Homo sapiens: one gene and its partner. The protein of the gene in region 2 interacts with the protein of the main gene of each other region in a pairwise test. Each region holds a gene or a part of one and is shown on either strand. Other genes may lie near its edges.

Region 1 (4,046 bases), on a different chromosome or scaffold from region 2:
TTTAGTAGGGGTTTAGATGGGGTTTCACCACATTGGCCAGGCTGGTCTCAAACTCCTGACCTCAGGTAATCTGCCCACCTCAGCCTCCCAAAGTGCTGGGATTACAGGCGTGAGCCACTGTGCCTGGGTGACTTTACTTTTCTAAGACTCAGTTTCCTTATTTGTAAGAAGAAGTTCCTAATACCTACTTCATAGGGTTGGTTGTTGCTGAATACTAAGATAACACATATAAAATGCTTCCAAAAAGGTTGCCTAAGGCACTCCATAGCTGCTACTAACACACACACACACACACACACACACACATATATATATATATATATATAACATGTATATATTTGGTATATATGCTGTATATATAACCAAAAACCCAAAATACATACAGGTTTGTTTGGAAGATTAAAGATGTGAGCTGAGTAGTGTGAACATGTATGACACGCAGCAGGTGCTACTTAAGTCTTCTCTAGCTCCTTGTTTCCCTCCCCATTTTTTAATTCTGAGTACCCCATATAAACAGAGAACACTGAGCCATATATGAGAACACCATACCATGGGAACTTTAATTAGAACAGAGACATGTTTCGTACAGGCTGAAAAACCAGAAACCCCGGGAAGGTTATGCTTAGCTTTGGAGACCAGAAATCAAGCTAGCCATGGCTGCTGTGTCACTGGGCAGAGGACAGGGTCCCAGGATGCTGGAGGACACAGCAGCTTCTTTCCATCTGATGTGAATGCTCCAGGCAGAGGCTGTCTGGTCAGGCTGAGCTGGGCTCATGGTGGGTCCTCGGGTTGGGAATTTTCCAGAGGAGATTCGCAGCCTCCAATGCAGAGAAATGGCCTTGGGGTGCACCACGTCCCCTTGGCCAATGTGGTGGATTATGCTAGGTCCTTGGCCAATCATTGCTTGAGGAAATAGCTAAGAATTGGGAGAAAAAAAAATACAGTGCAGAGAGAAGTTCTTATAGCACAGGACCCCGGAGAAAAAGCTACCAAGGGAATGTTGGACATTGAGTCAAGCTGATCTGAGCTCAAGGGAGCTTGGGCATGTCAACTCCCCCTCCTGAGCCTCAGTTTTCTCCTCTGAAAAGTGGCAATATGACCTATGTCACTGGGTTATTTGAATGATTGTACAAAAATATAGCCTGACAATGAACAATGGTTAAATCCAGAGCAGGGCAAGGTAAGCCCATCTTGGTCTCTCCCGTGATGACTTTGGACCACGGGGCTTAGAGAGAAGTTCAAACTAAATACAGAGGGCTTTAACCCAGGATACAAGAGTTATCAAGGTGACAGCAACTTGAGGTCTCCCATATATGACTGTGGGACTCAACGACTATGACCTCATTCTGCAAATGAAGTCCAGGCCCTACTTTTTTGTTTCCTTCCTTGGTTGACACCCTTTAATCTGCAGTCAGCAGAAGACACAAGAGACAATATATCCAACAGTATGGAGTCCATAGCATCAGGGCTTGAGCCCCCATTTCCCACGTCTTGCAGATAATATATAGGACAAGCCCCATTTTACAGATGACAAGACTGAGGCTAGAGACCCATTCCATTTCATTCAGACTGATACACAGGCCAAAGAAACACATAGGAATACCATTGCAGTCTTTTTGGCTTGGCTCGTTAGAAGATGAGGCATAGCTTTCCTTGGCCAGAAAAAAAAAAGAGTTTACAATTTTTCTTTATTTTTTTTTTCAAGGAGTTGTGACTTTTTAATAGAAGTTGGTTCATGTGTAGGCATTTTATTCTTCCATTAATTTCCATCTAAATGAGGTTTTCCTGGAGATAACCAGTGTTTTAGTTCCATTTGAGTCTAATTTGTGTGACTGAAGCCTCCATTTCTGCCAATTTCAATTTGCTTGGTGATTCTAGCACTCCTTACCTGGGCAGTAATGCCCTTGCTGCAGACAGCAGCACCTGGAGCTGGGAGATGGACCAATTCTCAATAGCAATTCAGGGAAAGAGGTGGTCCTTCTCTTTTCCCAATATTACTCAATAAATACGAAATAAATTATTAAATAAGCCATGTTCTGATGGGGGTCCCCCATCATGGTATTTACAATGCAAAACAACAGCCATCAAAAGAACTAAAAAAACACACACAGAAACTTTTACTCCAAAAACAGCAACCACAGATAGAAGAGAGATGACATTTCTGTCAGTATCATTGGCTCACTGGTGCAGAAGTGAGAAGAACGAGACTTCAATAAAGCATTGCTCAATGACATTGAATCTAGCATAAGTTTCTCAGCTGGACTCGGCTGGCCAGTGCGGGAGGAGGCATGTTTGGAGGAATCCTGTTTTTTGACTTCGTTTTACTGAGACAAAATTTTCTGTTCAGCTAAAGGGGAAAGTGGGGCAAGACACATGCGCATGAGACCATTTTGAACATTTGTGAAAAAGAAGAGGGGAAAAGAAAACAGCAGAAGAAAAGATGAAAGTTGGACTGGAGAAGGAAAACAATGTGCTTTCTTTGCCTTTGAGAGCACCCTGAATTTTGGCCTCTCCAAGCAGACCCTTTTGCAAAAGAGGATGGGTCTGAGCAAATGAAGTGATGCGGTTCTCTGAGACTGAGACCTTTGTTCTAACATCTTAATTTTATTCTGCTTCTGAAAGATCAGCTGTCCTTCAAAGAAGGGAAGGAATGCAGATAGGAATATGATCAAACCTCAGTGAACCAGAATGTTACTAATAGGGGGCTTTGAGTTACTTAGCCTTGCCTAATTAACTGAAGGGAGATCAAATCTTGCTTTTCGTTTTTACTTTCATGATGGACAACCTCCTAAAAATGTTTGAGGCTCTTTTCCTTTTCCCTCTGAGTCTCAGTGAAGCTCCCTCTGTCTTTGGTGACACTCTCAGGCCTCAGGCCAACATTTTGAATTTTTATCTCACAAATCCCTCCACTTAACAGAGGTCGAACTTTGCCCTAGGGAAAGGGAGCAATGTATTCAGTTTCTGTCATCCAGTGCACTTCCATAGCGGGAAGGTCAAAGGCTTGGGATGCATGGCGCTTGACCTCAAGCCACATCTCCCTCCCATTTTGGATGTTGGTTTTTGAGATAAATCCTCACGACGAGCAGCATCCTGGTGATCTGTCATATTCCTTGGAAGCAGAAGGTAATGAGGGTGAAATGGGCGTAGGAACAGCGATACTGGGAATGGGAGGTTCTGGTTAATCAGGGTTACCAGTGCCTCAACAAGCACATTGTTTTTGGATAGAAAAAAAGGAAATGTAAAAGAAAGTAGAGAAATACACTGAGAGAGAGAGAGAGAGAGAGAGAGAGAGAGAGACAGAGAGAGAGACAGAGAGAGAGACAGAGAGAGAGAGAGGCAGAGATTTCCCCGAAGCAGGCATTTAAGCAGCCTTCTTGTAAACTTCACCCAGGAAAGGGGCACTCCCTTGCTTTGGGTTAGGGCTGGATAGTCACATTGCCAGGGAAACAACCAGGGATGTTGCAAAAGTCTCACCAAACCCAAAGCTGGACCAGACAAGCTGGCAATTGCAAGGCAGTGGACAGTGACTTTGGAAAGGGCAAGAGCTGTCTCCGGCCAGCAGCCAGAAGACACTGCCAGTTGGTCAGATAAGCAGGACTGATGACCTTTGGATCCTGGGCCCTTCCAGGATGGGTTTGGAAATGACCTTCTTGGTGGGGTCCTGTGGAACATCTGGCTGCTCCTTCCACCTTTTTTTTTTTTTTCCTAATTTCAGAAATAGCTTTGTGCTTTCCCCTGATGAAACAGCAAGAGATCATAGATAAAAGCTTTTGCTTTTGGCTTGGTGGTTCTCAAGCAAGATGGCTGATGCCTCTTCCCAAGGTAGCCTTCAGATCTCAGGGGACAGAGAGAAATTAGGTACTGTGGAGTGGAAGCATGTGTAACATACATGAAACCAACTAGGTGTGCTCAGAGAAGCTAGGGAGTGATCCTGCTATGTGCCTTGGAGTGAGGGTGAGATCAAGGTGCATCTTCCCTCAGTCAGCTCAATTCCTGCCTCCATTCTCATGGTGTGAGCACCTTGTCAACCCCAAGTGCAATTCCAG
Region 2 (6,901 bases):
CAGGCGTGAGCCACTGTGCCCAGTCTCTTCCCAGGTATTTATTAAGCACTTGTTATATACCAGTCAGTTGTCAGAGCACTTAACTACATACCAACTCTTTTAATTCCCACTTAGTACCTACTGCTATGGTGTGTAGCTACATCGCCTCCACTTTAGAGGTGAGGGAACTGAGGCTCAGGTTAAGTAACCCAACCAAGGACCTATCGCTAGTAAGAGGCAGCAGTGCAATTTGAACCTATGTAGCCTGACTAGAGAATTTGAACCAATGTAGTCTGACTAGAGATTGAGTACTCTAAATTCCTACCCCAAACTTCCTCTATGAAGACCTGGCAACACTAGACCACATTTCTGGAGCACAGTCATAGCTGCCCCCTTCAGAAGGGAGCAGAGTAGGCCATTTCACCTCATAGCAGCCATAATGTAGAGGGGCAGATGTGTGTATGGGATGATGGCAGGAATAGTGATGGGGACACAAGGACCCTATAACTCATAAGTAGAGAGGAAGACAATTTCCTCATCCACCACTGGAAGAAGACTTGTTACTCAGTAGTCATGTGTGCCCCGTGATGATTGTATTTGCTTATTGTGTTTACTGTATTCTGGACACTGTACTAAATACTTATATTCTCATTTAATGTTCACTTTAGTGTCACATACACAATAAATGCTAGTTAAGATGGTACGGTTGGGCTGTGCACAGCAGCTCAAACCTGTAATCCCAGCACTTTGGAAGGCCAAGGTGCGCAGATTGCTTGAGCCCAGGAGTTTGAGACCAGCCTGGGCAACATAGTGAGACCCTGTCTCTACTAAAAAGCACAAAAATGTAGCCAGGAGTAGTGGTGCACACCTGTAGTCCTAGCTACTGGTGAGGCTGATGTGGGAGTATCACTTGAGCCTGGGAGGTCAAGGCTGTAGTGCACCATGATCATGCCACTGTACTCCAGGCTGGGTGACAAGAGAGATCCTGTCTCCAGAAAAAAAAAAAAAAAGTTTGTGAGGTTGTGTTTTTGGAGATAAATGAAATTCTGTATTGTTATTATGTAATTGTATATTATTTAGTTCTTCTTAAATTACTGTGTTCTTTATGAAAAGCGTATGGTTTCCTTGGGAAGTAGTTTTGTCAGACATGTATAATTGCAGTATCTGTAAAGGTAAAATAAAAGAATAAAAGGTGGATCACAAAAATATGGTACTCTTTGTGTTTAGTAAGCCATGGAATTTTGAATGATTTTTTTTTGTTGTCGTTGTTAATTTACATTTACTATTTATTTATTTATTTAGAGACGGAGTTTTGCTCTTGTTGACCAGGCTGGAGTGCAGTGGCATGATCTTGGCTCACTGCAACCTCCGCCTCCCAGGTTCAAGCGATTCTCCTACCTCAGCCTCCCGAGTAGCTGGGATTACAGGTGCCGGCCACCATGCCCAGCTAATTTTTGTATTTTTAGTAGAGATGGGGTTTCGTCATGTTGGCCAGGCTGGTCTTGAACTCTTGACCTCTGGTGATCCACCTGCCTCAGCCTCCCAAAGTGCTGGGATTATAGGTGTGAGCCACTGTGCCCGGTCCATTTACTATTTATTAATAATACATTTCTCACACTGGACAAATTTTCTTTAAGTCATTTTACTGAAAGCAAAACTACTTCCTAAGGAAAACAAATACGTATTATAAAGAACGTAGTAATTTAAGAAGAACTAAATATACAACTATGTAATAACAATACAGAATCTCATGTATCCCCTCAAAACAACCTTAAAACTTTTTTGTTTTTTTTGTTTTTCTTTTTTGAGATGGAGTCTTGCTCTGTTGCTCAGGCTGGAGTGCAGTGGCGCGATCTTGGCAAGCTCCGCCTCCTGGGTTCACGTCATTCTCCTGCCTCAGCCTCCCCAGCAGCTGGGAATACAGGCGCACGCTGCCATGCCCAGCTAGTTTTTTGTATTTTTAGTAGAGATGGGGTTTCACCATGTTAGTCAGGATGGTCTTGATCTCCTGACCTTGTGATCCGCTCGCTTCGGCCTCCCAAAATGCTGGGATTACAGGCGTGAGCCACCACACCCGGCCACTAAAACAACCTTAAAATCTTAACTAGCATTTAAGTAATAAGTGCTTATTGTCAGTGGATGAAAAACTTTTTTATACTGGCCACTGTTTTTGGCAGATGTTGATGATTGCTTCTCTTACATGTGTTGCTGTTTTGTTTCCTCTTTAGGTACTTGATGAAGAAGCAGAAGTTTTTATAGTCAAAATGTGGAGATTATTGATATATGAAACAGAAGCCAAGAAAATTGGTCTTGTGAAGTAAAACTTTTTATATTTAGAGTTCCATTTCAGATTTCTTCTTTGCCACCCTTTTAAGGACTTTGAATTTTTCTTTGTCTTTGAAGACATTGTGAGATCTGTAATTTTTTTTTTTTGTAGAAAATGTGAATTTTTTGGTCCTCTAATTTGTTGTTGCCCTGTGTACTCCCTTGGTTGTAAAGTCATCTGAATCCTTGGTTCTCTTTATACTCACCAGGTACAAATTACTGGTATGTTTTATAAGCCGCAGCTACTGTACACAGCCTATCTGATATAATCTTGTTCTGCTGATTTGTTTCTTGTAAATATTAAAACGACTCCCCAATTATTTTGCAGAATTGCACTTAATATTGAAATGTACTGTATAGGAACCAACATGAACAATTTTAATTGAAAACACCAGTCATAAACTATTACCACCCCCACTCTCTTTTGATCAGAAATGGCAAGCCCTTGTGAAGGCATGGAGTTTAAAATTGGAATGCAAAAATTAGCAGACAATCCATTCCTACTGTATTTCTGTATGAATGTGTTTGTGAATGTATGTGTAAAAGTCTTTCTTTTCCCTAATTTGCTTTGGTGGGGTCCTTAAAACATTTCCCAACTAAAGAATAGAATTGTAAAGGAAAAGTGGTACTGTTCCAACCTGAAATGTCTGTTATAATTAGGTTATTAGTTTCCCAGAGCATGGTGTTCTCGTGTCGTGAGCAATGTGGTTTGCTAACTGGATGGGGTTTTCTTATTAATAAGATGGCTGCTTCAGCTTCTCTTTTAAAGGAATGTGGATCATAGTGATTTTTCCTTTTAATTTTATTGCTCAGAAATGAGGCATATCCTAAAAATCCTGGAGAGCTGTATTTAATGCATTTTTGCACTAATTGGTCCTTAGTTTAATTCTATTGTATCTGTTTATTTAACAAAAAATTCATCATACCAAAAAGTGTAAGTGAAAACCCCCTTTAAAACAAAACAAAAAAATGAAATAAAATTAGGCAAATTGACAGACAGTGAGAGTTTTACAAACATGATAGGTATTCTGCTCGGCAATTTGTAAGTTTACATGTTATTTAAGGATAAAGGTAAATCATTCAAGGCAGTTACCAACCACTAACTATTTGTTTTCATTTTTGTCTTGTAGAAGGTTTATATCTTGTTTTACCTTGGCTCATTAGTGTTTAAAAATGTACTGATGATGTGCTTAGAGAAATTCCTGGGGCTTTCTTCGTTGTAGATCAGAATTTCACCAGGGAGTAAAATTACCTGAAAACGTAAGAAGTTTTAAACAGCTTTTCACACAAATTAGATGCAACTGTTCCCATGTCTGAGTACTTATTTAAAAGAAAGGTAAAGATTGGCCTGTTAGAAAAAGCATAATGTGAGCTTTGGATTACTGGATTTTTTTTTTTTTTAAACACACCTGGAGAGGACATTTGAAAACACTGTTCTTACCCTCGAACCCTGATGTGGTTCCATTATGTAAATATTTCAAATATTAAAAATGTATATATTTGATCCTGGGGACTCATATTCTTTCAGAATCATGTAAATAAATGGCATCATGTTGTAATTGTGTGGTGCATACTAGAAAAGTTAAAAATATGGGCTGAACTTTTTATGGACTTGATTTTTATGACTATTGGTATCTAAAGGTCAAGGAAGCCATTTACATTATTTTGGATGAATCTACTATACATCTATGGAAATGTCTCTTTTATTTTAAATTCTGGTTTCTCAACGGAAAATTTCAGAAAAGATGCCCCTTGCCATTTTCGTTAATTTTTCAGTCTTTTCTTAGACACACCCCCAGCCTAAGACCTTGTTCGAGGAGTTTATTGTGTCTGTCTTTTCTTAACATACTGCACTGTTCTTAAGCATCATATTGTGTTGTTTTTATTTAGCCACTATTAACATGAAGGTTTATTCAGGTAGATTTGATTTCCTTTGCTTCGTTTCTTCTCCTGCTCTGTCAACTGTACTTATCTTAAAGGGCCACTCTAAAAACAAGGGAGATGTCGTAATCTGAAACCTTTGGGGAGATGTACTCTGTACTGCATAACATCTCCAGTGAGGTTTGTGACAGGACCTCAACTAAATATATGAATTTGTGCAAGTTCATATATTAAAGTTTCTGCAGCAGAGTGAAAATTGTTACAGTAAATGTGGTAGAAACTGTTAATCGCTTAATGCCAGTTTAAATCATGTTTTGTAACCAAGCTTCAGTAAAAGGCTTTAGATTGTCAGAGTTGGTTGATTTTTAGAATTGTATATATAAAGAATTAGACATTAAACAGGCATATTCTAGTGTCTGAAAATACACATAAGAAATTTCTATTAAGTTGCTTGAACTTTGTGGGTTAATTTTACCATAATCTCATAAATTAATTTTAGTTTGAAAACCTTATACAGTATGAATTCATTTTGCCATTTCAAGTTGTTATATAAAGAGCATGAAAGTCTTTTTTTGTTGTTTTTTTGGGGTTTTTTTTTTTTTGAGAGGAAGTTGTGCTTTTGTCGCCCAGGATGGAGTGCAATGGCGCGAGCTCAGCTCACTTCAACTTCCGCCTCCCGGGTTCTGGAGATATTCTGCTTCAGTTTTCTGAGTAGCTGGGATTACAGGTGCCCACCACGACACCTGGCTAATTTTTTGTATTTTTAGTAGAGACAGGATTTCACCTTGTTGGCCAGGCTGGTCTCAAACTCCTGACCTCAGGTGATCCACCCGCCTCAGCCTCCCAAAGTGCTGGTATTACAGGCGTGAGCCACCTTGCCTGGCCAAAGCGTGAACATCTTAAGAACCAGTCTTGATCTGGCAAAAAAGTAGTAGAATACTACTTTTCTTTATTTGTCCCTAAAAATAAAGTATGTACATCTGTTCACAAGGAAGAAAGGTAAGTTTGAAGTTGTTTTTCTTAAACTTTAATGTGACCCCAAATCATCTGAGGAGTGCTTGTAGAAATAGAGACACTGAAGTAGCAGCGCTGGGGTGGCGCCGCAGGCTTTGCATTTCTGGACAGCTCCCAGCTAATGTCATTGCCAACTGATCCAAGACTACATTTTGATTAGCACTTTAAGGTGTCTATTCAGTATTATTTTATCCTAACAGACTACATAAATGCAGCTGAATTTTCCTTTAAGTAGATTTTAAAGAGAAAAACATTTTTTGAGGCAAATACACGTAACTCATGAACGTAATGTAATCTTGCAAAATTATGTCTGAGAAAGCCCTAATATTCTAGGCTTTTTTTCCATCCAGCCCTGAAAATTTTTTCTGTAGATAACTTTATGTTGTAACTTATTCTGAATCTTATTATGGCATTTCCCTGTAAACTATGTAAGTGTAAGCTAATGATTATTTTGTGAAGCGTGCTGTTTCAGGTATTAATCTGCCATGAATACTAGATATAGTAGAAAAACTGAGAAAACATTTAGCTTGAGAGCCAATTTGAACTAGACACTATCTTTTTTTCTCCTTTTTAATGGAATAAATTTAATGCAAATAAGTGTAAGCAGGTATACAATGTTTAGATGAGGCTTATTTTCCCAACTCTTTTTAACAGGTTTTATGATATCCCCAATTTATACCCAAAAGACTGCTGAGAGGTTTTATGTCAAATTGATTACAAACTTCTCTGGGTTGTATTTCAGTCTTCTGTTAAGTATGAAATTGAGAAATAGTTTTGCTCAACAAAAGATGATGAGGGATTGATTTGTGAATGTCACTGGAGATAAAAGGGTATGAGAAGGAATCCCAAGCAGGCAAAGAAACAGTCTAGCTGTCAAGAAGAAAACAGGGAGATACATACCAAACCCAGGAGCTACTAATATAACAATCATACTATAGAGCGAAGTGAACTTACACTTTTTGATAAACTGATAGATTTTTTGTAATGTGATTATGGTAAAATACTGAAATATTTATGTTAATTTATTTGCATTTGAATGCTTACATTTTTAATTGACAGAATCTTTGCATTTCATTACTTGAGTCATGAAGGCGAAATTAAAGAATGGCAGTCTAAAATACCCAGGTAAAGAAGATAATTTCTAGAAACAAAAATAAAAATTCTTTTCAAGCCATGTTGTTTGAATTAAATGACACTCCTGAGTCTGTCTACTTTTTTTTTTTTTTTTGAGACAGCATCTTGAACCCAGGAGGTGGAGGTTGCAGAGAGCCGAGATTGCGCCACTGCACTCCAGCGTGAGCAACAAGAGCAAAACTCCATCTCAAAAAAATACATGTATTTCTGTTAGCTGATCATCTAATGGTGGCAAAAAAAATTACACGAGTTCAGGAACATCATTAGACATAAATACAAAATACTATGTGAATTATCAAATGTGATAAGCTGAGAGGAAATGGGAAATAGGAAGATTCTCAGTAGAAGTAGTAATATGTGGAAGGGGCTTTAGAGGTCACCTAGTCTGTTTTGCCCATTGTAATTATGTCAGTAGTCCCTGCAGGTGGTTTATCTAGAGGAGTATATATGGGGTTCTAATTCATGGTCTAGCATTGCACTATTAAATAACCACTAATGACAAGTAGTTTTACATGCATTCACGTGAAATCTTTCTGTTTGTTTGTTTGAGATAGGGTCTGCCTCTGTC

Evidence for each region.
Region 1: the proteins of RBM25 (region 2) and SRRM4 interact in binary tests that used the Homo sapiens proteins (3 or more experiments, as listed by UniProt).

What each region holds. Positions count from the first base shown.
Region 1 is NC_000012.12:119,159,541-119,163,586, reverse strand, and holds the end of SRRM4 (serine/arginine repetitive matrix protein 4), read right to left. Parts: 3' UTR 536-4,046; downstream 1-535. UniProt on the Homo sapiens protein: Splicing factor specifically required for neural cell differentiation.
Region 2 is NC_000014.9:73,117,506-73,124,406, forward strand, and holds the end of RBM25 (RNA-binding protein 25), read left to right. Parts: intron 1-2,207; coding exon 2,208-2,300; 3' UTR 2,301-6,394; downstream 6,395-6,901. UniProt on the Homo sapiens protein: RNA-binding protein that acts as a regulator of alternative pre-mRNA splicing. Involved in apoptotic cell death through the regulation of the apoptotic factor BCL2L1 isoform expression.